4 linked regions of the Homo sapiens genome follow. The protein of the gene in region 4 interacts with the protein of the main gene of each other region in a pairwise test. Each region holds a gene or a part of one and is shown on either strand. Other genes may lie near its edges. The genes, in order: P2RX4, ZBTB24, SLC25A10 and KRTAP5-9.

What was found.
Region 1: the proteins of KRTAP5-9 (region 4) and P2RX4 interact in binary tests that used the Homo sapiens proteins (3 or more experiments, as listed by UniProt).
Region 2: the proteins of KRTAP5-9 (region 4) and ZBTB24 interact in binary tests that used the Homo sapiens proteins (3 or more experiments, as listed by UniProt).
Region 3: the proteins of KRTAP5-9 (region 4) and SLC25A10 interact in binary tests that used the Homo sapiens proteins (3 or more experiments, as listed by UniProt).

What each region holds. Positions count from the first base shown.
Region 1 is NC_000012.12:121,205,173-121,213,129, forward strand, and holds the start of P2RX4 (P2X purinoceptor 4), read left to right. Parts: upstream 1-4,956; 5' UTR 4,957-4,992; coding exon 4,993-5,126; intron 5,127-7,957. UniProt on the Homo sapiens protein: ATP-gated nonselective transmembrane cation channel permeable to potassium, sodium and calcium. CTP, but not GTP or UTP, functions as a weak affinity agonist for P2RX4.
Region 2 is NC_000006.12:109,473,216-109,480,242, forward strand, and holds part of ZBTB24 (zinc finger and BTB domain-containing protein 24), read right to left. Parts: intron 3,716-7,027; coding exon 3,548-3,715; intron 3,044-3,547; coding exon 2,960-3,043; intron 2,268-2,959; coding exon 2,184-2,267; intron 1-2,183. UniProt on the Homo sapiens protein: May be involved in BMP2-induced transcription.
Region 3 is NC_000017.11:81,715,257-81,721,512, reverse strand, and holds the end of SLC25A10 (mitochondrial dicarboxylate carrier), read right to left. Parts: intron 6,036-6,256; coding exon 5,921-6,035; intron 5,821-5,920; coding exon 5,772-5,820; intron 5,505-5,771; coding exon 5,463-5,504; intron 4,702-5,462; coding exon 4,658-4,701; intron 4,512-4,657; coding exon 4,441-4,511; intron 4,115-4,440; coding exon 4,022-4,114; intron 3,757-4,021; coding exon of another isoform or gene 3,730-3,756; coding exon 3,652-3,729; intron 3,462-3,651; coding exon of another isoform or gene 3,345-3,461; exon of another isoform or gene 3,169-3,344; intron 1,683-3,168; coding exon 1,626-1,682; intron 1,538-1,625; coding exon 1,436-1,537; coding exon of another isoform or gene 996-1,435; 3' UTR 501-995; downstream 1-500. UniProt on the Homo sapiens protein: Catalyzes the electroneutral exchange or flux of physiologically important metabolites such as dicarboxylates (malonate, malate, succinate), inorganic sulfur-containing anions, and phosphate, across mitochondrial inner membrane.
Region 4 is NC_000011.10:71,544,211-71,550,135, reverse strand, and holds KRTAP5-9 (keratin-associated protein 5-9), read right to left. Parts: upstream 1,717-5,925; 5' UTR 1,479-1,716; coding exon 969-1,478; 3' UTR 528-968; downstream 1-527.

The sequences.
Region 1 (7,957 bases), on a different chromosome or scaffold from region 4:
GTGGGCATGGGAAGGTTAAAGAGACAAGGTCAGATGCCAAACATAGCTTTTCTTTTCTTTTTTTTTTTTCTTGATACGGAGTCTCGCTCTGTCACCCAGGCTGGAGTGCAATGGTGCGATCTCGGCTCACTGCAACCTCCCAGGTTCAAGTGATTCTCTTGCCTCAGCCTCCTGAGTAGCTGATTACAGGGATTACAGGCATGCACCACCATGCCTGGCTAATTTTTGTATTTTGAGTAGAGATGGGGTTTCTCCATGTTGCCCAGCCTGGTTTCGAACTCCTGGCCTCAAGTGATCCACCTGCCTCGGCCTCCCAAAGTGCTGGGATGACAGGCGTGAACCACGGAGCCCCGCCCAGAACATATCTTTTTAATTCTCTGGGGAAATCCTAGAAAAGGAATATCTTGGTCCTACGGTAATTTCTATGTTTAACATTTTGAGGAACTGCTGTTTTCCAAAGCAGCTGGCCCATTTTACATTCCCACGAGTAAAAAGCAGCTGGACCATTTTACATTCCCATGAGTAATGTGTGAGGGTTCCAGTTTCTCCACATCCTTGCCAGCTTTTTGATTGTCCATCTTTTTAATTATAACCATGCTAGTGGGGAGGAAATGGTATCTCACTGTGGCTTTGATTTGTATTTCCCTAACGATAATGATATCGAGCATCTTCTTGTGTTTATTGATCTCATGTGTATATCTTCTTTGGAGAAATGTCTATTCAGATATGTTTGCCCATTTTTAAATAGGGTTGTCATGTTATTGGTGAGTTTTAAGAGTTCTTACGATATCTGAAATACTAGATCCTTAACAGATATAGGATATGTGAATATTTTATCATTCTGTGGGTTTTTCCCTTTCTTGATGGTAACTTTGAAGCACGAACTTTTCAGTTTTGACAAAGTAGTCCAATTTATCTATTTTTTTCTTTTGTTGCCTTGCTTTAGGCAACAAAATCTAAATCTAAAAAACCACTGTCTAATCCGAGGTCACAAAGATTTGCCCCTATGTTTTCATCAGAGAGATTTATAATTTTAGCTCTTATATGTATGTCTTTGATCCATTTTTAATTTTCTCTCTTTCCTTATTATTTTTATTATATTATTTTTTTTAAGACAGAGTCTCACTGTGTCACCCAGGCTGGAGGGCAGTGGCACAATATCAGCTCACTGCAGCCTCCGCCTGCTGGGCTCAAGCAATTCTCCTACCTCAACCTCCCAAGTAGCTGGGATTACAGGCATGCACTACCACACCCGGCTAACTTTTGTATTTTTAGTAGAGATGGGGCTTCACCATGTTGGTCAGGCTGGTCTCAAACTCCCGACCTCAAGTGATCCACCTACCTCAACCTCTCAAAGTGCTGGGATTACAGGTGTGAGCCACACCTGGCCAATTTATTTTTTTAAAAATTTTATGTAGCTGGGACTACAACTACAGGTGCGTGCTACCATGCCCAGCTAATTTTTGTACTTTTTGTAGAGATGGGGTTTCACCATGTTGCCCAGGCTGGTCTGGAACTCCTGAGCTCAAGTGAGCCACCCACCTCGGCCCCCCAAAGTGCTGGGATTACAGGTGTGAGCCACCGCATCCCGCCTTCTTATTTATTTTTGAGACAGGGTCTCACTCTGTCACCCAGGCTGGAGTGCAGTGGCACAATTGCAGCTCACTACAACCTTGACCTCCTAAACTCAAGTGATCCTCCTGCCTCAGCCTCCCAAGTAGCTGGGACCACAGGCATGCACCAGCATGGCTGGCTAATTTTTAAAGTATTTATAGAGATGGGGGTCTCCCTATGTTGTCCAGGCTGGTCTCAAACTCCTGGGCTCTAGCAATCCTCCCAACTTAGTCTCTCAAAGTGCTGGGATTACAGGAATGGGCCACCATGTCTGGTCAATAAAGTTATTTTTTAAAAAGAGATAATCCAAGAGCAACAGTGTAAACAAAATAACTTTTCCAAATCATTTTTTAGGATCAGCTTCTTTGGTCAGGCCTAATGATGTTACCAACTAGTAATTTATAAAAACTTGCATTTCTACATTTTTCTTAACTGACCCCATTCCAAAACACAAGCAAACCATCTAAATTCAAGATTTGTGAGGTTGGGACTAACTCATTACTATAGGGTAAGTATGAATGAAGGCTGGAAATGTGTTTTGATTGCTGCCATTATTTTTTATTTTTATTTTTTCTGAGATGGAGTTTCACTCTTGTCGCCCAGGCTGGAGTGCAATGGCGTGATCAGCTCATGGCAACCTCCACCTCCCCGGTTCAAGCAATTCTCCTGCCTCAGCCTCCTGAGTAGCTGAGATTACAGGCATGCGCCACCACGCCCAGCTAATTTTTGTATTTTTAGTAGAGACGGGGTTTCTCCATTGTTGGTCAGGCTGGTCTCGAACTCCCAATGTCAGGTGATCCACCCACCTTGGCCTGCCAAAGTGCTGGGATTAAAGGTGTAAGCCACGTGCCTGGTGTTTTTTGGGGTTTGTTTGTTTGTTTTGAGATGGAGTCTGTCACCCAGGCTGGAGTGCAGTGGCACAATTTCAGCTCACTGCAACCTCCGCCTCCCAGGTTCAAGCAATTCTTCCTGCCTCAGCCTCCCGAGTAGCTGGGATTACAGGCACCTGCCATAAGGCCCAGCTAAGTTTTTTATATTTTCAGTAGAGATGAGGTTTCACCATGTTGGCCAGGCTGGTCTCCAGCTCCTGACCTCACATGATCATCCGCCTGCCTCGGCCTCCCAAAGTGCTGCAGTTATAGGTGTGAGCCACCGTGCCCAGCCATGTTTTGATTCTTAAGGAAATGATTTTTAAGTCCCCTTCCAATGAGGATTTAGCAATGGAGTTTTCTTCTTCTACAGATAATTTGAGGCTTCCCAATTGCACCAAACTCCATTTGGGCAGATACCTCACCTGTCCACTCCATAGCCCTAGCATCAAGAAAAGTGCCAAGCACACAACAGGCACTCAGTAAATTTCTGTCAAATGAATGAATAAAATACCACCACCTTTTCCTGAGACCATTTTGGACCAAGGCTGGCATGGGCATCTCTGTTCCTCCCTCTAACTTAAGAATTCCATCTCTTAGAGGCAGATGCTGCCTGTTTTCTGCAAATTTTATTATTCACCTTTCTATATTTGGAAAAACAAGTTGGTGTGGCTTACTTAGGAATCTCATATCCAGGAAATGAGCTAAAAATGTTGTATCAAAGATTATGCATAGGATCCACAAACTAAGAAGCAAGCAGATGAGAGCGGTTAGAGACATCGTGGTATATTTTCCGGAAGAAATGGTCCATGGATTAAAAATTGTCATTATGATGAGTCTGCAGTAACACAGAAACCACGTAGTGCGAATCAGAAAATGAAAAGCACAGCCATTGACTATGATTACAAACCAAAACTTTATACCAATTACCTGTTGGAATTTATGCTGCATGAAGGCAGGATATTTTGCTTGTCCTGTTCACTGGACAGTACTTGGCATAAAGGATGTGCTTATGAATATTTTCTGGGAAACTAAATATAACATTCACCTGTGAAAACACATCTGGGCCAGGCGCAGTGGCTCACGCCTGTAATCCCAACACTTTGGGAGCCCGAGGCGGGTGGATCATGGGAGGTCAGGAGCTGGAGATCAGCCTGGCCAACATGGTGAAAACCTGTCTCTAATAAAAATACAAAAATTAGCTGGGCGTGGTGGCGGGCACTTGTAATCCCAGCTACTCAAGAGGCTGAGGCAGGAGAATTGCTTGAACCTGGGAGGCGGAGGTTACAGTGAGCCGAGATCGCGCCACTGCACTCCAGACTGGACAAGAGTGAAACTCCGTCTCAAAAAAAAAAAGAAAAAGAAAAAGAAAAAACGTATCTGAAGGGAATGAACAAATACACATGCGGAAAATTGTATTCATGGGGTAGAACGGTGGCTGTTTCCCCCCCTTTCACTATTTTCTCTCCTAAAGTTGTGATAGCATTTTCTCAGTGGAAAGGATGACCACAGAATTATCTCCCCTGGGCTGCAACTAAGGAAGTATTTGGAGTGAGAATGCGACCAGGCTTCAAATCCAGGAGGGGTATTTTACAGGGCGTGTGGCTCTCACCCAGGGCTCACAGGACACCTGATATTTAGGCTGTTCCCCAAGAGGCTAAGGACAGCGCGGCCCCAGCTCCCCCAACCACAGCTGCCCAAGTTTAGGAGCCCGCACTCGTGAGCGATGGCTACTCCGCACAGCCCCGGGGTCCTCTACGGAAATCCCTGGCACCTATCAGTACCCCTAAGGGAGGTCGCTCGTTACCCCTCACTTGAACTCTGTCCCAAATGGGAGGTCACTCTCTCTTCGCGGACCCCATCTTCCCCGAAAGGGTCTCTTGTTCTCTCTGGCCCTCCTGAGAAGGTCATTACTCCCCAACTCGCCTTTTTTGTTGTTTTTTGGTTTCTGGTTTATTGAGGCAGGGTCTCGCTTCATCTCCCAGACTGGAGTGCAGTGGCGCGATCACAGCTCACACGGCAGCCTCTACCTCCTGGGCTCAAGCGATCCTCTCACCTCAGCCTCCCTGGGACTACAGGCGAGCGCCACTACGCCCGCTTTTTTTTTTTTTTTTTTTTTTTTTTTGTATTTTTGATAGAGACGAGGTCTCGCTATGTTGTCCAGGCTGGTCTCTAACTCAAGATTCCTCTCACCTCGGCCTCCGCAAGTGCTGGGATGACAGGTGTGAGCCACCGCCCCCGGCCCCTCGCCCGCCTTTTGAAGGAGCCTTTCGTCCTCAAGGGCGAGGCCACTCCCCCCCCGCGAGTTCCATGCCCCCTAGAGGGTCATCGTTCCCGACGGGGAGGTGGCGCCCTCCCCCGGGCCCCGGGCCCCGACCGCCCGTGCTGCCTCCTTCCGGGCCCTCCTCCGCGATGACGGCGCCGCCAGCAGGCCAGGCGGACTGGGCGGGGCTCCGAGCGGGGACTGGGACCCAGACCGACTAGGGGACTGGGAGCGGGCGGCGCGGCCATGGCGGGCTGCTGCGCCGCGCTGGCGGCCTTCCTGTTCGAGTACGACACGCCGCGCATCGTGCTCATCCGCAGCCGCAAAGTGGGGCTCATGAACCGCGCCGTGCAACTGCTCATCCTGGCCTACGTCATCGGGTGAGCGTGGGGCCGCGCGGGGGGCGCGGCGGGTGCTGCCCTCGCGTCCGCGCCGTGCGGCGGCTCATCCTGGCCTCGGTCACCTGGGCGAGTCCGGGAGCGGCGAGCCGAGGCGGTGACACCTTCCCTGGGCCCCAGCCGCCGCGCCGGGGCCCCGGGGGCGGGAGGCTGCTTGCTGCTGTTTTAAAACCACAGCCTGGGCCAGGCGCGGTGGCGCAAGCCTGTAATCCGAGCACTTTGGGAGCCCGAGGCGGGACCATCGCCTGAGCCCAGGAGTTCGAAACCAATTTGGGCAACATCGTGGGACCCCGTCTCTGCAAAAAATTAAAAATCATCCGGGCCTGGTGGCGCGCGCCTGGGGTCCCAGCTACTCAGGAGGCTGAGGTGGGAGGATCGCTTGAGCCCAAGAGGCTGAGGCTGCAGTGAGCTATGATCACACCACTTAACTCGAGCCTGGGAGACAGTCCGAGACCCGTCTGTTTACAAAATAAATAAAGGCAAAGCCTGGCTAGGCTGTTACCCTCTCCTGCCTGACCCCCCATAGTGCCCCTTGGCTGTAGGGGCTTCGCCCTGAACGTCTCAATCTTCGCTCTCCACTTCCCATCCTGCTGATTTGCTGACAAAACCAAAGCTTGGAATTTCCGCTTGGTTCCTTCTGGGTGGGTGGCTTTTGGTCATTTCTTTTGATCACTATGCGGTGTCACTATGTGGTAGTAGCGAGGTCAGACTGTAGCGAGTGTTTAAAGTTTGCTTCCTTTGTTTTCTGGGCTTGTGGGGCTTTTTGTGGTACCTGCCCTAGCCTAGTCAGTCATTCCCCATGCTGCCCCCTTAGGCTAGAGATGCCCTACCGCCCTCAGGCCTCGCTGAATGTGCCATTGTACTTGAAGGCACCTGTTACTTTTTTAATTTTTTTATTTTTTTGAGACGGAATTTCTCTCTTGTCGCCCGGGCTGGAGTGCAATGGCACGATCTCGGCTCACTGCAACCTCTGCCTCCCGGGTTCAAGCAATTCTCCTGTCTCAGTCTCCTGAGTGGCTGGGATTACAAGTGCCCGCCACCACGCCCGGCCAATTTTTGTATTTTTTAGTAGAGACGGGGTTTCAGGCTGGTCCTGAACTGACCTCAGGTGATCCGCCCACCTCAGCCTCCCAAAATGCTGGGATTACAGGCGTGAGCCCCCACGCGGGGCTGGCACCTGTTACAATTGAATACAACGCGAGAGAGAAGATGATAATTACCTTGCCACCTGGGGCCACTTTAAAGGCTTACCTGGGGTGTTCTGGTGTCTACAGCTGCTGGGCTGACACGTATTGCCTAGTGCAGTGGTCTCCAAACTGCACATTGGAACCATCTGGAAATCTTTGGCTCCCATCCCCAGACCCTTTTTTATTTTTTTGATGGAGTCTCCCTCTGTCGCCCAGGCTGGAGTGCAGTGGTGCAATCTTGGCTCGCTGCAACCTCCACCTCCCTGGTTCAAGCGATTCTCCTGCCTCAGCCTCCTGAGTAGCTGGGATTACAGGCACCCACCACCATGCCCGGCTAATTTTTGTATTTTTAGTAGGGACAGGGTTTCGCCATGTTGGCCAGGCTGGTCTCGAACTCCTGGCCTCAGGTGATCCACCCGCCGCAGCCTCCCAGAGTGCTGGGATTACAGGCGTGAGCCACCGCGCCCAGACGCATCCCCAGACCTTCTGATTTAATTGCTGCAGAGTATGATCGGCTGCCCAGGTGATTCTCATGTTCAGCAACGTTTCGGAACCAATGAACTGTGTTTCCCAAGTTTACCTGATCATGGAAGACTCATCTGAGGAATTGTTTAAAAGTAACAGATCCCCCCGTCTTTGGGGTGAGGTTTGGAATCTTAACACTGCCCAAGGGAAGCCCAAGCAGGTTTGGCTTCCAATATCTGTCAGCAGCAGCAGTAGATACAGACAGTATTCAAGAGGATGGCTTTCCAGGTGCAGACTCAACATCAGAACCACCTGGCCCACACCCAGATTTGGACTCATTGGCTCACACCTGTAGTCCCAGTGCTTTGGGAAGCCAAGGTGGGAGGATTGCTTGAGGCCAGGAGCTCAAGACCAGCCTGGACACAAGACCAGCCTGGACAACATAGCGAGACCCCATCTCTAAGAGAAAAATAAAGTTTAAAATGGTAAATTGTACTGATGGAGCAGTGCAAAAAAAAGAATTTTTTTTTTTTTTTTTTCTGAACACGGTGGCTCATGCCTATAATCTCAGCACTTTGGGAGGCCGAGGCGGGTGGATCACCTGAGGTCAGGAGTTCGAGACCAGCCTGGCCAACATGGTAAAACCCCGTCTCTACTAAAAGTACAAAAAATTAGCCAGGCCTAGTGGCTAATGCCTGTAATCCCGGCTACATGGGAGGCTGAGGCAGGAGAATCGTTTGAATCCAGGAGGCGGAGGTTGCAGTGAGCCCAGATTGCGCCACTGCACTCCAGCCTGGGCAACAAGAGCAAAACTCCATCTCAAATATATATATATATATATATATATATATATATATTTTTTTTTTTTTTTTGGAGACTCACTGCTAGCCAGTTAACTGAACTCACATCCCTGGTTGGACCTGAAGCATTTGGGGGCAGGAGCTCCCCTGCAGCTTTTTGCTTTTGGCGTTTGCTGCTAGTGGGAGGATCAGTGCACATCTACCTTAGGGTACCTGTAAAATTACAACTGCGGAAAATATCCATAGTGGTGTTGCACTGTATGGTAGCCACTAGTAACTTGCACCTGTTGAACACTTAACCGTTCCTACTCTACACTGAGATGTGCTATAACCTTAAAATACACACTGGATTTCAAAGACA
Region 2 (7,027 bases), on a different chromosome or scaffold from region 4:
AAGGCTTTTTTTTAAAGCTTCCCAGGTGGTAAAAAGCATGCAGCTAAATTGAGAACATCCACCTACACTATGACTTCCTACTCCCAGCTCTCTGGCTGCCTTGATGCTCCTCCCAGCACGTCTCCAGCTTGTCAAAAACATTTATTCCTGCCTGAGGGCCCTGTGCCCAGGGCTCCCCCTGCCTAGAATGCTCTCTCCTGGACATCTTCAATGGCCGGCTGGCTCACTCCCCCACTGCATTCTCATCTCCATCCAAGATGCCACCTCATCTGTGAGACCTTCCCAAACCAGTCCATGCATAAAAGAGCAACTCTCTTTCCGGCATCCCGCCCCCTTACCTTGCATTTTATTCTTCAACGCACTCACAACACCAAATGTGTTATATACTTGTCTGTACTCTGTCTTCCCTATTGAATGTTGGCCCCTTAAGGCAGGGGCCTGTCCATCTCATTCACTGCTGTATCCTCAAAGCCTAAAACAATGTCTGGTTCCCAGTAAGTGCTCAGTACATGTGTTAAAATCCATATCCTATGAGATGTTTACTGAATTTAAGAAGAAAAACTTGTATTTAAAAAACAACATCCAGGCCAGGCACAGTGGCTCACGCCTGTAATCCCAGCGCTTTGGGAGGCTGGGAGGGTGGATCACTTGAGCCAGGAGTTTGAGCGAGACCAGCCTGGCTAACATGCCAAAACCCTGTCTCTACAAAAAAAAAACACAAAAATTAGCCAGGCGTGGTGGTGCGCACCTGTAGTTCCAGCTACTCGGGAGGATGAAGCAGGAGAATTGCTTGAACCCAGCAGGCAGAGGTTACAGTGAGCCAAGATAGCACCACTGCACAACAGCCTGGGCGACAGAGACAGTGACTCCAAAAAAAAAAAAAAAAAAAGTCCAAAGCACCATAAATCAATTTGCTATTTAGATAATTCCAGTAGACAACAGAATTATTAAATAACCTGTAATGGCAAGTTTTTCTTAGAAAACTGAATAGGCTTATTTTTAACATACATTCTTTGACAAAAGGTATAAAAGATCCAATTTTCCGATCTTACATAAAAAAACTGACCTGCCCTAATCAATGCTGCCTCCTCGTCATCTCTGAAACTGATTTTTCTGGAGGTGGTGCTGCTTAAGTTTAAGTGTTGGTTCTAGGGGAGAAAGTGGAAACATTCTCAGTGTCTATGCTACATTTGTGTCTGTTACATTTGGCTGTCTTTTCTAAAAAAATAATCTTGGGCCAGGCACAGTGGCTCACGCCTGTAATCCCAGCACTTTGGGAGGCCAAGGTGGGCAGATCACAAGGTCAAGAGATCGAGACCATCCTGGCCAACATGGTAAAACCCCATCTCTACTAAAAATACAAAAAAAATTAGCTGGGCATGGTAGCGCACACCTATAGTCCCAGCTACTAGGGAGGCTGAGGCAGGAGAATCACTTGAACCCGGGAGGCAGAGGTTGCAGTGAGCCAAGATCGTGCCACTGCACTGCAGCCTGGCAACAGAGCGAGACTCCGTCTCAAAAAAAAAAAAAAAAATTTATCTTGCTGGGTATGGTGGCTCATGCCTGTCATCTCAGCATTTTGGGAGGCTCAGACAGGAAGACTGCTTGAGCCCAGGAGTTCAAGACCAGCCTGGGCAACATAGTGGGACCCATCTCTACAAAAATTAAAAAATAAAAAATTAGGTAGTGTGGTGGTTTGCACCTGTGGTCCCAGCTACCCAGGAGGCTGAGGTGGGACGATCACCTCAGCCCAGGAGGTCAAGGCTGTGGTGAGCTGTGATCGTGCCACTACACTCTAGCCTGGATGACAGCACAAGCCCTTATCTTTAAAAAAAAAAAAAAAAAAAAGTCTTGATATCACCTTCAATGCTGAAGTAAATTAAGAGTGAAACATAGAACCAGACTCAGACTCACTATTCTGTGGTATTAAATGAATTGTGACATACGAATAGTCCTCAGTAAGTGATCTCCATTTTGCTCATCTACAAGAGATGTGATTTCCCCAAAGACAGTGCTGACAACATTCTGCCTTCCAACTTTTAACTTATCTTCTTACACAACTCCCATCCAATTTATAATAAACATTTCCAAACACAGGCTTAGCAGGGCACTCAGAGAACTTCATTCTTCACTCTCCTGAAAACATCCCGTGTACTGGGGGGACAGACGAGATGGAGTTTTACCTGTGTGTGTTCGCAGATGTTTCTTTAGCTGAGACACATCCATGAATTTGCGATGGCAGTCTTTGCATTCCGGTAATGAGTGGCCTTGTCGCAACAATAAAAAAAGTGTCAGTGCATACATGCTCTCCCTGCCTTTTCTTCAGTGATTTGTGTTAAAGCACTTCCCTGAAAAATAATCACTTTAAATATAGTACTTTAACCACAAAAATTTTTTCATTAATTTGGTAACTGTTAATATTTTCCTAAGCACCTCAACTCACTGCCTCCTCCAAGAGAGCTAGGATCCTTCCAATTCTAAATGTAGTCTCTCCTTTTTTCCTCAAAGTATTGGTGTGACTGAGGCCACAAATGACCTCAAATGACACTCGTAACCCACATTCATTTCTTATCAGTTGGCAGGAAAGAAAAAGGACAACAGGTAGAACCAGGGGAGAGAAAGCCTGGGCTGACAGCCATGGGATGATGATGTCTCTGCCCAGGCACCACTAACAACCATTCACTGAAGCTCCCCTGTGCAAGTGGCACTTTTGAAAGATGCCAATTCTGTAGGGTTTCTGTGTGTGGCACCAAAACTGTAGTATACAAATAAAACATAATTCACATGGTGGCGGACAATAACATAAAAACATGTAATTTAGACTCTTAAGGCACTTTTCCCTAAATACCCTATGTGAACGATATGTGCTAAGAGCAGAACAATATAAACCTAATGTTTCAGAAACAATTCTTATTTGCATTTCTTCCCCCCCAATCTAAATGTTCTCACTTTATCGTACCTGTATGAACTCGGTAATGGCTCTTTAGCTGTCTGTTCTGGCTGAAATATTTTCCGCATTGATCACAGGTAAAAGACTTCTGTCCTGCCAAAAAAACCAAAACACTAAAACATGTAAAAAATTATAAAGAACTGGAATGCTCACTAATAAGGTAAATACTACAGTGGGTCCAGGTCCCCATTTTCTACAAATGATACAAGCGACTTGTTTACATACCCAGAAGCCTTCAATCTACCACAGAAACATAAATGTGCAAAGGTATGTAAGGCAATCGGGAGTACTGGAGACTGGGGTAGAACTGGAGAATTTAAGTTTCCCCGAAAGGCGTTCAAAGTAAAACAATTCTAAACTTTGGTGGTTTAATAAAACATGCTTGCACACTAAACTCCCAGCAGCCAGTTTATAAGCTCTAGTTTAATGATCCGTGCAGAACTCTAAACTGCACTCAGACAGATGCAAAATCCTGTCTTTCAATGACACCACGTTGGAAATGATACTAGGCTGAGAAAACACCATTTAGGTGTTGGTAATGCCCACCCTGGGGAATGGGAATCTGGTGAAGCTGGCCCTCTGGGCAAGCCCCACTACCTGAGTGCAGGCTCATGTGCTCCAGCAGTGAGTGCTTGGTGGTCAGAGCCTTGCTGCACACGGTGCAGGTGTACGGCCGCTCGCCTGTGTGCATCCTGGTGTGGACCTGTAGCGAGTGCTTCTGGGCAAAGCCTTTTCCACACTCATTACATTTGAAAGGTCGCTCCCCTGGAAGAAGAGCCCCAGAAGCATGGTATAAGTAAGAATCCACACATTTTTCTGTCTCTCCCAAATTAAAAAAACAATAAAGGATTTTTCTTAAAAGGCACACATCCAAAAGGCCAACAATGAACACAAGAGACATCAGCAATAAAATTTTGGAAGCTGAACAGATGAATCTGAAGCCAGCAGTGAGTAGCACTAACATAACCTAATTTTTTGTTTTTCCTTTGTAACAGGGTCTCACTCTATCACCCAGGCTGGAGTGCAGTGGCGCTACCATAGCTGACTATAGCCTCAACCTCCTGGGAACAAATGATCTTCCCACTTCAGCCTCCTGAGTAGCTGGGATCACAGGCATGTGCCACCACTACACCCAGCTAATTTTTTAATTGTAATTTTAATTTTTTTTAGAGATGGGATCTCACTATGTTGCCCAGGCAGGTCTCCAACTCCTGGGCTCAAGCAATCTTCCTGCCTCGGCCTCCCAAATTGCTGGGAGTACAGGCATGAGCCACCACACCCAGCCCAATACAACCTAATTTTTAAGACACAATCTCCTAAGGCTCAGGAATTGGTGGCACCTGCTATCTCTGGAAACAGGGGTGAGGGAGGGTAAATGAAAGTCTGTTTCAAAGGTGCTTAGACCCCTGATCAAATCTTCCACTCTACACAGCCAGGAGACTGTCCCTCCCCCAAAAGAGAATGGAGAGTGTTCACTGAGGAGGGTTAAGAAAAAGGGGTCTTTGGATTAGGAGTTTCTAGGCACAGTTGAGTTGGGATCACCACAGGGAGAGTAAGTCAACATTTCCATCTGGGATGATGAGACTCCCCCACTCCTTCTTCCCCATCCTGTCCTAGACACAGGCCAGCAGCCAGGCCTAGTGCCTCCAAGTGGGAGAGCAGAAGCGTCTTCCAGTGGAACATGAGAGGTCCAAGGTGAGAGAGCAAAGATGTGGAAGCCAGGCACCAGTAAGGACATGGGGCACAGCCACACCACCTCCAGTGAGGTTATGACAGGCCTCCATACAACTGTTTCAGTACTGACTGAGTGGTTAAGTTAAACATTAAAAGCCAGTGCCCTTAAACAAAGGCTGGAATGTAACAAAAGCCCACCAAGAGTTTCCCCTAGGCTTCTCCTGGGCCTTAAAGCATGACAAAATAACGAAGGAATTCTTAACAGGGCCCACTTAGGATTAAACAAGTTTTACTGGGGATCTGAAGGAACTCCCCAAATCTCCGTGATTTAGCAGAAGATAAGGGTAATCACCCCAGCACCTAGACCCATTTAGATTAAGTAAACTTACTGAGGCTCCAGAAGAAGGTCTTTGGGACGCAGACCTTGGATATAGATTAAAAGAAGTTAATCACCTACGTCTTTAGAGGAATGCACACTTACAGACAGACATACAGCTTAGGCGGTATATAAGCTCTGAAAAATTCTGTAATTTTGAGTTGGTCTGGCGATAATTTCCAGGCCTTCTCCCTATAACTGGTTACAGAAATAAAAACTCTCTTCCTCTCCAATTCATCTGCATCTCATTATTGGGCCACGAGAAATAGCAGCCTGACTCTCAGTGTGATCTGGGAACAAGGTCACAGTTTTACAGACTCTCTCATACAAAAAAAATTAGCCAGGCATGGTGGTGCGTGCCTGTAATCCCAGCTACTTGGGTGGCTGAGGCAGGAGAATCACTTGAATCCAGGAGGCGGAGGTTGTGGTGATCGGAGATCACGCCATTGCACTCCAGCCTGGGCAACAGCCTAAGAAATAAATAAAATACAGGCTCTCTCCACACATGCAGCATTGCCAGTAGCTTTTAGCAACCCACCCTTACATATGATTTAAAAAAAAAACACCAGGCACTCAAGGAGAGCCTTTTGTAATAGTGACAGACAAACAAGCAAGAAGAAAAAAAAAAGCAACTTGCCTCCAGTGAGGAAAATGTTGTTATCATTAACATGCTCATAGAGGTAAGATAATACATTGTGAAATAAAAAGATCATTCAAATTAAAACATTTAGAAAAAAAAGAGCTCCTAAAGGGGGAAAAAAATAAGAGTTGAAACAGAAAACCTCAAAGGGCTGAAAAACAAAGTGGAAATCCCCCAGAGGGTGGGGCCAAAAATGATGGAAAATATAAGAGAAAATAAAGTTAGAGAGAACAGAGAAAACAGAGAGGAGAAATCATCTATGAAATAACTCAAGATTTTCCAGAACTGAAAGACAGTTTCCAAACCTTATGAATCTACCTGTTATCTACCCAGATGGAAGAAAACAGACCCATACTAAAGTGATGGGCTGCAAAATTCAGAATACAGATGCTTCCTGACTTATGATGGGACTACATCTAACAAACCCATCATACTGAAAATATCATAAGGAAAAATGCACTTATACAGAGTACTGTATGAATGCACCAAATGCAGAGTACTGGTCATTTACCCACGTGACTGTGTGGCCCGGCATGGCATGAGAGGATCATACTGAATATTACTAGACCGGGAAAAGATCAAAACTCAGAATTCAAAGTACAGTTTCTGTTGAACATGTACTGCTTTCACACTATTGTAAAGATGAATTGAACCATTGTGAGTCGGGGACTGTCTGTACTGAGGACATAAGGGAAGAACGATCCTACATGCTTTTTCTTAAGTCTTGTATAATGATTTAACTCTAAACTATGCACATAAAATTTTTGATAAAAATAGCCAGCTGGGCGCAGTGGCGCACGCCTGTAATCCCAGCACTTTGGGAGGCTGAGGCAGGCAGATCACGAGGTCAGGAGTTTGAGACCAGCCTGACCAACATGGTGAAACCCCGTCTCTACTAAAAATACAAAAAATTAGCTGGGCGTGGTGGCGTGTGCCTGTAATCCCAGCTACTCAGGAGGCTGAGGCAGGAGAATCACTTGAACTCGGGAGGCGGAGGTTGCGGTGAGCCGAGATCGCGCCACTGCACTCTAGCCTGGGTGACAGAGCGAGAATCCATCTCAAAAAAAAAAAAAAAAAAAAAAAAAAAGCTAAAATATAACCTATTACAGTTCAACAAATATTTCTCAAGTATCCACTTTGTTCGAAGTACCTGAATTCAAGCTCTTCAACCTATCTGTAGCTAAAGTCTTTAGGGAGCTTTTAAAAGCACCAAGGCTCCAGACAACTAAATCAGAAGCTCTGGGGTGGAGGTCTAGGCACTGGTAGTTTTAGAAGCTCCCTAAGTGATTCCAATTTGCAGGCTGAGAACCACAGCACCAGATACTGCTGGATCACAGGAGAAGACTTAAGCCCCAGTCCCTATACTTAAGATTACAATTAAGTTGAG
Region 3 (6,256 bases), on a different chromosome or scaffold from region 4:
CACAGTAAGACCCTGTCTTAAAAAAAAAAAAAAGGGCATCTTTGGGAGGCCAAAATGGGCAGATCCCCTGAGCTCAGAAGTTTGGGACCAGCCTGGGTAACATTGTGAGACCCCAACTCTACAAAAACATACAAAAATTAGCCAGGTATGATGGTGCACGCCCATAGCACCAGCTACTTGGAAGGCTGAGGTAGAAGACTGGTTTGAGCCCAGGAGGCCCAGGTTAGTAAGCCAAGATCGTGCCACTGCACTCCAGTCTGAATGACAGAGCCAGATCCTGTGTCTGAGACCCTCAACCCCAGCCTCACCGTCTTGTTCCCTTCCCCCCACACCGGTTTTGGTTCCTCCTACTTCCCCAATTCCTTCATCCAAATGCACAGCGAGGACCCTGGCTCCTCCCCAAAAGGCCTTGGCCCGGTCCTCCTTAGGGGGTGCAGGGGGTCCTGCTGGTCTGGACAGCAAGGCAGCCAGCGGGCAGGCAGCGCAGGCAGGAACAGATGTGGCAGCTCCCGGCATTTATTGATTGCAGCCCCCACAGAGCACACTGCCCTTCCCAGGTGGGGTGAAGCCCAGCGACCAGGGAGGCAGAGGATGCAGCATCCGCCCCGTCGGACTCCTTGTCGGGGAGAAGGCCCTAAGGAGGAACCGCGGCCCGCCTGGGCCATTCCCCCAGGGAGCCAAGCGGGGGGGCCCAGGTGCCCGAGGGACGCAGGCACAATCCCTGAAGACAGAGACCGCCTGCTGGTGAGTGGAGAGGCTTTGGCAAAACTAACTGTTAAAGCCACTGCAGGGCAGGCAGCGGTGCGCGGGACCTCGGTGGCCCTCGACCCTCACCCACAATGGCTCCAGAACCACCCTGGGCCACTCCCTCCCAGGCACTCGCTTGTGGTCTGCGTTGCTTGTTCATCCCACCCAGCTGCGGGGTCTCGCGGGGAGTTGCAGCTGCCCGAGGACATGGAAGGTCTGGTTGCTCTCAGCAGACACGAAGTGCAGAGCTAGCACTTGGGTGAGCAACAGCCAGGCTGCACCCACACTCTGCCACCCAAGTCCTCGATGGAAAGTGCTGGAAGATGCTGCTTTGGGCATCGGGGGCAGGAGGCAGGGATAATACCCCTCCCCTGGCCCAGGAGAGGGGAGAAATCAGCCTCTGGTAGCCCCTGTTCCCCTGAGGAGCTGCCAGCGGGAGAGGGGCAAGGCCACGCAGTGCCCAGCCGGGAGAGCCTGGTAGCCAGAGCGGGGGTGGTGCAGCTACAGCTGAGAGGGGACGAGGCCAGGAGGAGCTCAGCCAGCAGGTGGGGGGACAGCAGGGGCCTGCTGCGGAGGACGGGTGGCCACGGCCAGGGAGGTCGTGGCCCCAGGAGCAGGTGCTGGGCTTGGGACTCTTTGGAAGAACCTAGCGTGTCTGGCCTGGCAGCCCAGCCATTCCCACGGCTGGTCAGGATGGCACTTTGATGCCAAAGTTTTTGCGTAGCTGTTCCAGAAACACAAAAGTGAGCACGGTGTGGGGGATGAGGCGGATGCCAGCTGGGACGAGGCCCTGGAGGGAGACAGGGAAAATGAGAGACACAGAGCCCGAAGGGGCCCGCTCCCCATTGCCCAAGCCGCCACTGCCGCCACCACTGCACCTTGTAAAAGGCCAGAGGCCCGAGCTTCGCTGTCTCCACGGCGCAGTGGAAAACGCCCTGCAGAAAACGCAGTGAAACAATCAAAAAGGCTGCTTCTCACCCAAAAGGCAACGAAAATCCCCTCCCAGGCACCAGCCAGGCACGGTGGCCTGGGCATTCTCAATGTGGGGTGTGGGTGTGGGTGTGGGTGTGAGCGGCGGCTGCTGGCTGGTAACAGGTGACCACAGGTCTGCAGGCACCAGCCAGGTCAACGGCCACCCTGCCTGCTCATGCGGTACAACCAGGGCCCGAGGGTGCAGCCCGGGGTCCAGTGGGCAGAGGGGGCTGTGAACAGAACCATGAGAATCAGGGATGCAGCACGGCAGCGTCAGGGAGAAGAAAAGGGACAGAGCTATGGGCTCTGCAAACGTGGAAGCCCCATGGAGTTGGCGGGGGCCCAAGACAGGAGACCCAGAGCACCTATGAGGCACAGACTGCCATGAACGGCACCACCTCTGTTAATCTGTGAAAGAAATGTTTTTGGCCGGGCACAGTGACTCACACCTGTAATCCCAGCACTTTGGGAGGCTGAGGCGGCAGATCACTTCAGGCCAGGAGTTCAAGACCAGCCTGGCGAACATGGCGAAACCTTGTCTCTACTAAAAATACAAAAATTAGCCAGGAGTGGTGGCACGTGCCTGTAATCCCAGCACTTTGGGAGGCCGAGGCAAGCGGATCACCTGAGGTCAGGAGTTCAAGACCAGCCTGGCCGACATGGTGAAACCCTGTCTCTACTAAAAATATGAAAAATTAGCCGGGCATGGTGGCGGGCGCCTGTAATCCCAGCTACTTGGGAGGCTGAGGCAGGAGAATCGCTTGATCCCAGGAGGTGGAGGTTGCAATGAGGGGAAAAAAAAAAGAAAGAAAAGAAATGTGTTTTTTTTTGTTTTTTGTTTTTTTAAGACAGAGTCTCGCTCTGTCATCCAGGCTGGAGTGCAGTGGTGCAATCTCGGCTCACTGCAACCTCCGCCTCCTGAATTCAAGCAATTCTCCTGCCTCAGCCTCCTGAGTAGCTGGGATTACAGGCGTGCGCCACCAGGCCCAGCTAATTTTTTTGCATTTTTAGTAGAGACGGGGTTTCACCATGTTGGTCAGGCTGGTCTCCAACTCCTGACTTGTGATCTGCCCGCCTTGGCCTCCCAAAGTGTTGGGATTACAGGCGTGAGCCACCGTGCCTGGCCGAAAAGAAATGTTTTAAGACAGTCTCACTCTGTCACCCAGGCTGGAATGCAGTGGTGCAATCTCGGCTCACTGTGGCCTGGACATCCTGGGCTCAAGGGATTATCCCACCTCAGCCTCCTGTGTAGCTGGAACTACAGGCATGCACCACCAAGCCTGACCAATTTTGTTTTGTTTTGTTTTTTTGAGACAGTTTCACTCTTGTGGCCCAGGCTGGGGTGCAATGGTGTGATCTCGGCTCACTGCAACCTCCGCCTCCCAGGTTCAAGCGATTCTCCTGCCTCAGCCTCCCGAGTAGCTGGGATTACAGGCGCACGCCACCACACCCAGCCAATTTTTTGTATTTTTAGTAGAGAGGGGGTTTCACCATGTTGGCCAGGCTGGTCTTGAACTCCTGACCTCAGGTGATCTGCTTGCCTCGACCTCCCAAAGTGCTGGGATGATAGGCATGAGCCACCGCACCTGGCCCCTAATTTTTGTAATTTTGGTAGAGACAGGGTTTCAGTATGTTGCCCAGGCTGGTCTTGAACTCCTAGACTCAAGCAGTCTGCCTGCCTCAGGCTCCCAAAGTGCTGGGGTTACAGGCATGAGCCACTGCGCCGGGCCAAGAAGTCTTCTCTAAAAACAAAAACAAGGCAAAGGCATTCAAAGGCACAACCCTCTCCCAAGGCAAGTGCTGTGCAGAGACAGGCAACTAGAAGGGAGGGACACCCTTCCCCGGGTCCCCAGTGCGAGTGTCCACCCCCCGGAGAGGTGAGGGGACTCGCTGGGCTGTGCAGCCCAACTGCACAGGCAGGGCCCCACTCACCTGATACTCCCCCTTGGAGTTCATCAGGCGAGTCTTCAGCACATCCAGGGGCTGGCACAGGAACGTGGCACATCCACCCTGAGGAGGGGGCTCGTCACCAGCGGCCTGTCAGGTACGCCAGGCACCATCGCCGAATCCCACCCACGTGCCAGAACCTCCACCTGACTCCTAGGGCGGGCCAGGAACATGCTGGCGGGGGCACCAGGCTGACCCATGAGCTCCCAAAGCCCTGGCACCCCACTTATGAGCCCCAGGGGGCACTGCCAGATGCCCAAGGCCCCCGCCTCCCCCAGCCCTCGCCCCATCCTGGGTGCCCTCAGCGCCCAAGGCCGGCCCAGGGACGCCCACCCTAGCCATGCCGGCCACTTACTGCAATAAAGCTGGCGACAAAGTGAGTGAAGATGTTGTCAGAGAGGTACCCGGTGCTAAGGACCAGCTGCTTGGCCTGGTCGTAGCAGGACAGCTGCAGGGGCACAAGGGCGGTCAGGGCTGTAGGGGGGACCCCAGCTTGGGGAAAGCACACAGGGCCCCAGGCGACACCACCTGGCAATGGCCAAGCACCTGCTCCGTCTGTCCGTCCGTGAGGCCCAGACAGGGGAGGCACCTGCCCGAGGTCCTTCACAGGCTGCAGCCCTGACCCACCCGTGCCCCCCACCCTGCCCCACAAGGTCACAGCTGGTGGCTCCCCAGGAGGGTTTTGGCGCCCAGTGCCTTGTTCTATGGCCCCTCTGAAGATGGAGGTCAGTGGTCACAGGCACTGCCCACACCCACCCCACGCAGGAGGCCTACCTGGCCCACAGTGACTAAGGCCCCTCGGCTGGATGCCATGGTTGCACCCGAGAACAGTCTCCTGAGACCCTCTGCACAAGGAAGGGGTGAGGCAAGGGGTGAGGCAAGGGGTGAGGCCAGGCACCTGGCCCAAATCCCTCAGCGCCCAGTCTTCTACAGCGCTGCCCACCCTGCCTGCCCCCCAGAACCCTGCCTGTGCACAGCACCTGCCCCTCACCTTCACGAGCTACGCGGTACAGGCCATCCAGCGCATGGGCGTAGCTGCCGGGGACACAGAATGACCACATGAGACTCCCCCTGACCACCGGCTCCCACAGAGGGTCCTCCCAGGCCCCGAGGCAGGCCGGGGGTTCTCGAGGAAGCAGAGGCCTCATGGGCCTGAAGATCTCTCCCTGGGAACATGAAGCTGGTCCTGACGTCCCACAGCCACCTCGCCCGCCCCGCCCGGCCCTCAGGGAGGAGGTTCCATCGTTTCCAACAGAGTCCCTGGCTGGGCACCGCTCCTAGCATGCAGGCCTCCTGCCCGCCAGCCCCCGGGGTCCTGGGGGAACACAGTCTGTGTGCACAGCTAGAAGCCAGAACTCCCCAGGGGTCCTTGGAAGGGGCGGGGGAAGTGGCTCACACTGCAGTTGGAGCGGACCCCGGGCCCTGGAAAGACCCCAGGCCGTGGCAGGAGGGCACAGCTGCCCTGAGCTGGGCAGGGAGGCAGCGCCTCCTTCGGGCGTTTCTGTTGCATGCGCTCTCTCCATGCCTGGGGCGTTCGCCTCCGCACTCACCACCCTGGGGTGCAAACAGGCCCAGCCCCCAATCCAACAAGGCTCTCCCCACAGGAAGAACCCAAAGGTCCTGGGGGCGCAGAGTGACACCCCCGAGTCCAGAACAGCCGTCAGGACCCTCCATGGACCGTGCAGGCACCTCGGCCTGCTGGAGCCTCAGCTGGGTCACGGCAGAGCAGCCAGGGGTCCGCTCCCGCCCGAGCCTCCTGCACCTCAACCACCCCGAGAAGGCCGCCCATGACTCACTTGCGCCGCTGACCCTGGGGCAGCTTCACGTCGTTCTGCATCCTGAAACAGAAGCAGGTGGCGGGAGGGGCGGGCGGGCCGAGGGGCATGGGCAGCCCTGGCAGCACAGGGGAGCTCACGCTGGTCAGCGGGGCCCACAGGACAGGGCACGCCGGGGCTCAGGGACACCCACCCTCCTATGCCCAGGACACCAGGGTCTCAGTGGCTTATTCCAGGCTGACCCCACCCTGCAAGCAGCCCTGGCAGGCCCTGGCATGTCTGGGGACAAGAAAGCCCCTGGCCTTGCAGGTGGGGTGGGGGAACACCAACCTGACGTTGACCAAGTCTGCGGGCGTCCCCACGAAGCCTCCAGCTAAACCTGCGGTGACACAAACCCCAGAGATGAGCCGTGCTGACACACGGCGTCCTCGGCCGACCTGACCACCCCGCGCCCCTCCCCCTCCCGCCCGGCAGCTCACCGCTGACGGAGCCCAGCAACACCTTCTCGTGGAAGGGGAGAGGCCCCTGGCTGCCCTTGGCCACACGGTCCCGCACAGTCTCGTAGATGGCGAACCGAGTCAGGGAGTAGGTCATCTGGGGGAGAAGGGCCTGGCTTGGAGGGACGGGCACGCCCCACACCCCTCAGCCTCGCCACCCGGCCCAGCCAGGGATCCCCCTCAGCCCGAGGGGCCACAGGGACCCTGAGGGGCCTTCCCAAGGCCACTGTGCCAGCATGCGGCTGAGCCAGTTCACAAATCTAGAGCTGCACCCTGCTTTCTCACTCCCTGGGCCTCAGCTTCCCCACCAGTAAGTGG
Region 4 (5,925 bases):
CCTGTGTTCAGCCACACCGTCTTGGATCCTTGAAGCAGCACAGTTTCCAGTGTTGTCCTACAGAGCATCTCAGGGACACAGCTCATTCTAGTCTCGCTTCCCCATCTCCTGGCTTGACCCACAAACTGGGGACTGGCTGGACCCAGAGAGCACCCATTACATCCCTTCCTAGGCACTGAGGGCAAAGTTCTCCTTCTCTCCCAAACATATCCTCCCATGGGGAAGAAGTAGGAGTCCAAATTCCAACCAAGACAGACTGAATCCCACTGAGATACAGCTGGGACTCCCTGTGTACTAATGAGAGATACTCACTCATTCACTCATTCATTCCTCGTCTTCATTCATTCATACATACTGCTAGTGGTTCCTTCATTAATCAGTTCAACAACTGTTTCTGGAATGGGAGCTGGGCCTGGCACACTGTTACAGCAGTGGGAGCAATAAGCTATCAGGGAGGAGGGGAAGGACATGTGGCCAGTTTGCCAATGAGACAGAGGCTGGAAGAAAAGAGTCAGTGAGACCAAGGCTGAGGGATGGAGAATTTATTTAGTGCTGCACCCAGATGCATTTTGGATTTCCATAGATACATGTGATCATTTGGGTTGCAGGACATCCATCTGCAAATGTCGTGAAGCTCCTGGCAGGCAAAGGAAAGAAGGGTTTGCTGTCTCCCATGGAATTATCAAGAAGGGGAATTCCAGGCTCTTGCTTGGCATGAGGGCAGCCCCCAGTGCAGTTTGGCTCAGACATATGGGGGCATGTGGGAAAGAGGGGCAAAATTGCCTGGGTCTTGGGATATTCTTATAGGGAATGGGCAGGGAGTGGTTCATTCCATTTCCTCAGGGGCTGGAAAAAGACGCCCTGAGCCAAGGGCTCTTTTCAGATCCAGAAGGGGATGTGCTTCAAGGGTAGTCACTTGTTGGAAAGCACAGATCTTCAGGAGCTACCTGAGGTTTCCCACTAGAGCCTCAGATCTTGCACTGGTAGCACACAGGGACACAGCATCTGGACTGGGAGCAGCAGGGCTTGCAGCAGCTGGACTGGCAGCAGGATGACCCACAGCCTGAGGATGAGCAGCAGGGCTTGCAGCAGCTGGATTGGCAGCAGGATGACCCACGACCCGAGGAGGAGCAACAGGGCTTACAGCAGCTGCACTGGGAGCAGTAGGGCTTGCAGCAGCTGCACTGGCAGCAGGATGACCCACAGCCTGAAGAGCAACAGCAGGGCTTGCAGCAACTGCACTGGGAGCAGCCACAAGAACCACAGCCTCCCTTGGAGCCCCCACAGGAGCCACAGCCCCGCTTGCCACAGCTAGAGCAGGAACAGGCTGGAACACAGCAGCACACGGGCTTGCAGCAGTAGACGGGTGCACAGCAGCTGGGGCCACAGCCCCTGCAGCCAGAGCCACAGCTCCCACAGCTGGAGTCACAGCCTCCACAGCTGGAGCCACAGCCTCCGGAGCAGCCACAGCAGCCCATGGTTCTGGTGGATTGAGGGTGGAGCAGGTAGAGGAGCAGGTGAGAAGGAGGTGCAGGTGTGGAGCCCCCTGAGCCCCGGCTCTTTATATCCCACATAGGAACACACCATTGTTTCTCTTTCCGGTTGCTGTTACACAGCTCCTGGAGGTATGTCTTGATTGTTTTTCTTTGGCTATGTTGATATTTTCTGGATCCAAGTATGAGCCCTTCCTCCTGAGATGATTTCCTTGTGGAATTCATACTGAAAGGAAAAACAGCTCCAACGCTGGCTCACCTCAGGAGGAAGTGCAGCTTCCTCAAGGTCTGTCCCAGTTCCTAACTCTTATTCTTCCTGGGCCTTTGAGCAGATCCAGTCAGCTCCCGAGCCCCAGCTTCTTCTCCTGCAGAGGGGTGCTAGCAACACCAGCCTCCGGGGGTTGCCTGAGAATTACCTGAGATCATTCATGTATTGCGTCTTTTGCAACACCCCAACTCCCCATCCCCCATGCTCATGCAGGGTTCCGTCTTGGCAGGACTGGGTCAATGTTGTGGGTTTTTGACGTTTGATGCTGTGAGACGCCCTCCCTCCCCAGAGCAGTGCCACTCTCTACCTGATTCCTGCTGATTCCCCCAGGGATGTGGTATCTTCTCTGTGGCAACTGTGGCTGAGGATGGCAGGGTTCTCAGCAGTGGGGAAGGAGGCATCCTCTGTCTACCTCCTCCCTATTCCTGGACCAGGAATAGGCCAGGGCAATGGGCTCTGTGATTACAGAAGGGAATTTCACACAGCATGGTCCTTGGGGACACGTGAGCAGAGCTTCCCGCTGCTTTGAAACTATTGTCTGGACAGGTTCTTCTCTTGGAGGAAAACAAAGCTTGGAGCAGAACTTGGAGGGTGGTAGGGGGACCATGATGGGTACAAAGAGCAGCCAAGAGACAGGAAGGATACTCCAGCTAGGAGGCAGGGCACCAGCAATGGTGTGGAGGCTGCAGGTGCAGGAACCCATCGGTACGGTCCACACTCAGATGCGGTTAAAATGTGTGATGAGTGGATGTGCAGGCTTACGACATTCCAGTGTGCCTCAGCTGACTTGGGGTGAAATCCAAACCCCTGACACTGGCCCCATCCACCTCTCCAGCTGGATTTGACCGTGGCCTTGGCCACCCATCGTTGCAGAACCAATCAGCCCAAAGCTCAGTGGATCAGTAGTTCAGATCCGGCACTGGATGGTGGCACAGGCCGCATGATTTGTGGGGTCTCAATTGGGAAGGTACCAATGGCTAACGATGGCAGCATGGCTTGGCTGGGCTGTATTTTGGGACCTCAGTTCCGGCTGTCTGCAGGGTTCCTTGGTTTTTCTGTAAATTATGTCAGCTGGGGCTGGCTTGTCCAAGATGCTGTGTTCACACACCTATGGGATGGCTACAACAGGTGAGGCCGGACAGATCTCCCTCCCCTCCCCCACCTCACGGCCTCTTCCCACGGCTGGCTTGGGCTTCCTCACAGCATGGTGGGCTCAGGGCAGCTGTACTTCCTAGGAGGTCACTCGAGCAGAGGCTAGAAGGTGCCTTATGACCCAGCCTAGGAATCCTAGAGTATTTCTCCCTCCTCAAGTCACTGAGGCCAGCCCAGATTGCAGAGAGAAGAGAAAGTCCACCTCTCCGTGGGAGGAGAATGACTTGGTGTCATCTTCAGACTGCCTCAATCATTCTTCATCCAGCCCTGGATTGGTGCCGGGGCCACACCGCACTCCTCCTTACGACCTGTGTGCTGGCAGTTCCTTACATGGAACAGACTCACCCAGGACCGCCCTGGACTGCGTCCCTCCTGTCTGCCCAACTCAGATCCACCTCTGACACCCCGTCCCGAGATAGCTACCCCCACCACCTTGCACTTTCTGTTTCATTTATTGATTCCCACGATGCCAAGCTGGCTCTGCTCTCATCCTTGTTTGTTCTTAGAGGTGTGTGTCCCACTCCAGGGGGGTGTGAGTTCTGAAGGGGCAGCGACTTTATCCCACACGCAGCCATGTAGCTGTGTCACCAACACCTGGACATGCTCCATCATCGTCATTGAGAGAGGGAGGTGTTAACTGAAGAAGGACGAGGTCGTCAATTTGGAAAGGAGCGCTTTACTTCTCATAAAGTGCTGCGGGCTGAGTGTGGCTGTTCTGACTGGTTGGGAGGCGCAGCCTCTGGTAGGAAGCTGGAAACAGACACTTGGAGGGAGGGAAGAATAAAGCAGAGATCTACACTGAGTGGGGGTGGCTGAATATGCATATTCAATAAGCTGTGGGAGGGACATGAATATTGATAAGAGGAGAAACTGAGACATGAGGCCAGCTGGACTTCTTGGGTCCCGTGGGGACTTGGGGAACTTTTCTGTCTTACAAGAGGATTGTAAAATGCACCAATCAGGAACTTTCCTGTCTTGCAAGAGGATTGTAAAACACACCAATCTGCACAGGATTCTGAAAGTAGCCAATCGCAGGGAGGATTGAAAAAAAGGCACTCTGATAGGACAGAAACGGAACATGGGCGGGGCCAATAGGGGAATAAAAGCTGGCCACACAGCCAGCAGCGGCAACCCACTCGGGTCTACTTCCACGCTGTGGAAGCTTTGTCCTTTCGCGAATAAACAATAAACCTTGCTGCCACTGACTCTTTGGGTCTGTGCCATCTTTAAGAGCTGTAACACTCACTGCGAAGGTCCGTGAAAGTCCATGGGTGCATTCTTGAAGTCAGCGAGACCACGAACCCACCAGCAGGAACCAACTGCAGACCCAAAACCAGGCATATGCGCAATCCAGCTTCACCCCCTCTCTATGTGCAAAAACCAGAGGTGTTAGCCTGATCTGAGGGTGGAGCTTTTGGCCCTCTGATGTCAAAAGGTGAAGCAGCGGACTCAGAAGACTTCCTTGCGCCTCTTCCGTAGAATGGCCAGGGCCTCTCCGTGGTGGATCTCCTATCAAGAAGGAGGGGGCAATGTCAGGGGTACACTGATCTCCTCAGTGCAGTCTCCACAGAATTGGTTTCTGTTTTCCCTGAGGGGAGGGAGCTGGGTCATGGCTGGCCAGGGAGTAGGAGAAGGGCGCAAGTCCAGCTTCCCATCCCCCCGTAGCCAGGAACTCAGCTTCCAAGGTTTCCCGGTTAACCAAACATAACATTCTAAGACCTCCTCCCCGACCATCTGAATGGACTTCCTCCTCAGCCAGGGCTGTTTTAAAATTTAACCTGAGACACTATGATGGGCAGTGGGGGTCAGACATGCCTCATTCTACCTCTCTGGCATTAACATCCACACAGACTTTAAGTCCGATAACAAACGTCTCACAACCTCTTCTCTCTGAAGCCTGCTACCTAAAGGCTTCCTCTGCAAATAACAACCTGGGTCTCCATGATCCTTTATCCTAACCCAGACATTCCTTTCTGTTGATCCCAGGTCTTTAGACAAGCTCAACCAACTGTCAACCGGAAAATTTTTACATCTACCTATAGCCTGGAAGCACTCCCCACCCTTCAAGTTGTCCCACTTTTCTGGACCAAACCAATGTAATGTCGACAAAAAGAGTCAAACTCTGTAAAATATTTGAAGAGAGATTTATTCTGGGCCCAATATGAGTGACCATGGCCTGAGACACAACCCTCAGGAGGTCCTGAGAACATGGGCCCAAGGTGGTCATGGTACAGCTTGGTTTTACACATTTTAGGGAGGCAGGAGACATCAATCAAATACATTTCAAAATTACATTGGTTTGGTCCAGAAAGGCGGGACAACTCAAAGCGGGTGGTGGGGGATGGGGGGTGAGGGGGTTCCAGGCTATAGGTAAATTTAAACATTTTCTGGTTCACGGTTGGTTGAGTTTGTCTAAAGACCTGGGATGGATAGGAAGGGAAAGTTCAAGTTAAGATAAAGATTGTGGAGACCAAAGTTCTTTTGAAGTCTGATAGTGGCTGCCCTTAGAGACAATAGATGACAAATGTTTCCTATTCAGACCTTAGTTAATCTCTTTAGGACTGGGAGGGTCTGGAAGAAAAAGATCTAGCTATGTTAATAGAGATTCTTTGCAGATCCAAATTTTCCCCCACAAAGGACGCTCTGCAGGGCCATTTCAAAATACAGCAAAGAAACATGTTTTGGGGTAAAGTATTTTGATTTTCTTCCTTGTCTCATAATGTTATGCCAGAGTCGGGTTGGAAAGTAAGTCACAATATTTAGGGCTAAACAAAACCTGTCTGTTGAGAGTTTATGATTTGTAGGGCATGCGCAGACCCCTTAGATAGGAATTTGAGCAAGATTAAAAAAAACAACAACAGAGTTTAGGCCTTAGTATTTCTTAAATGTATTTGATTAAAGTCTCATGTCTCCCTAAAATATATAAAACCAAGCTGCACCCCAAACCTCTTGGGCACCTGCTCTCAGGACCTCCTGAGGGCTGTGTCACGGGCCATTTGTCAGTCATGTTCG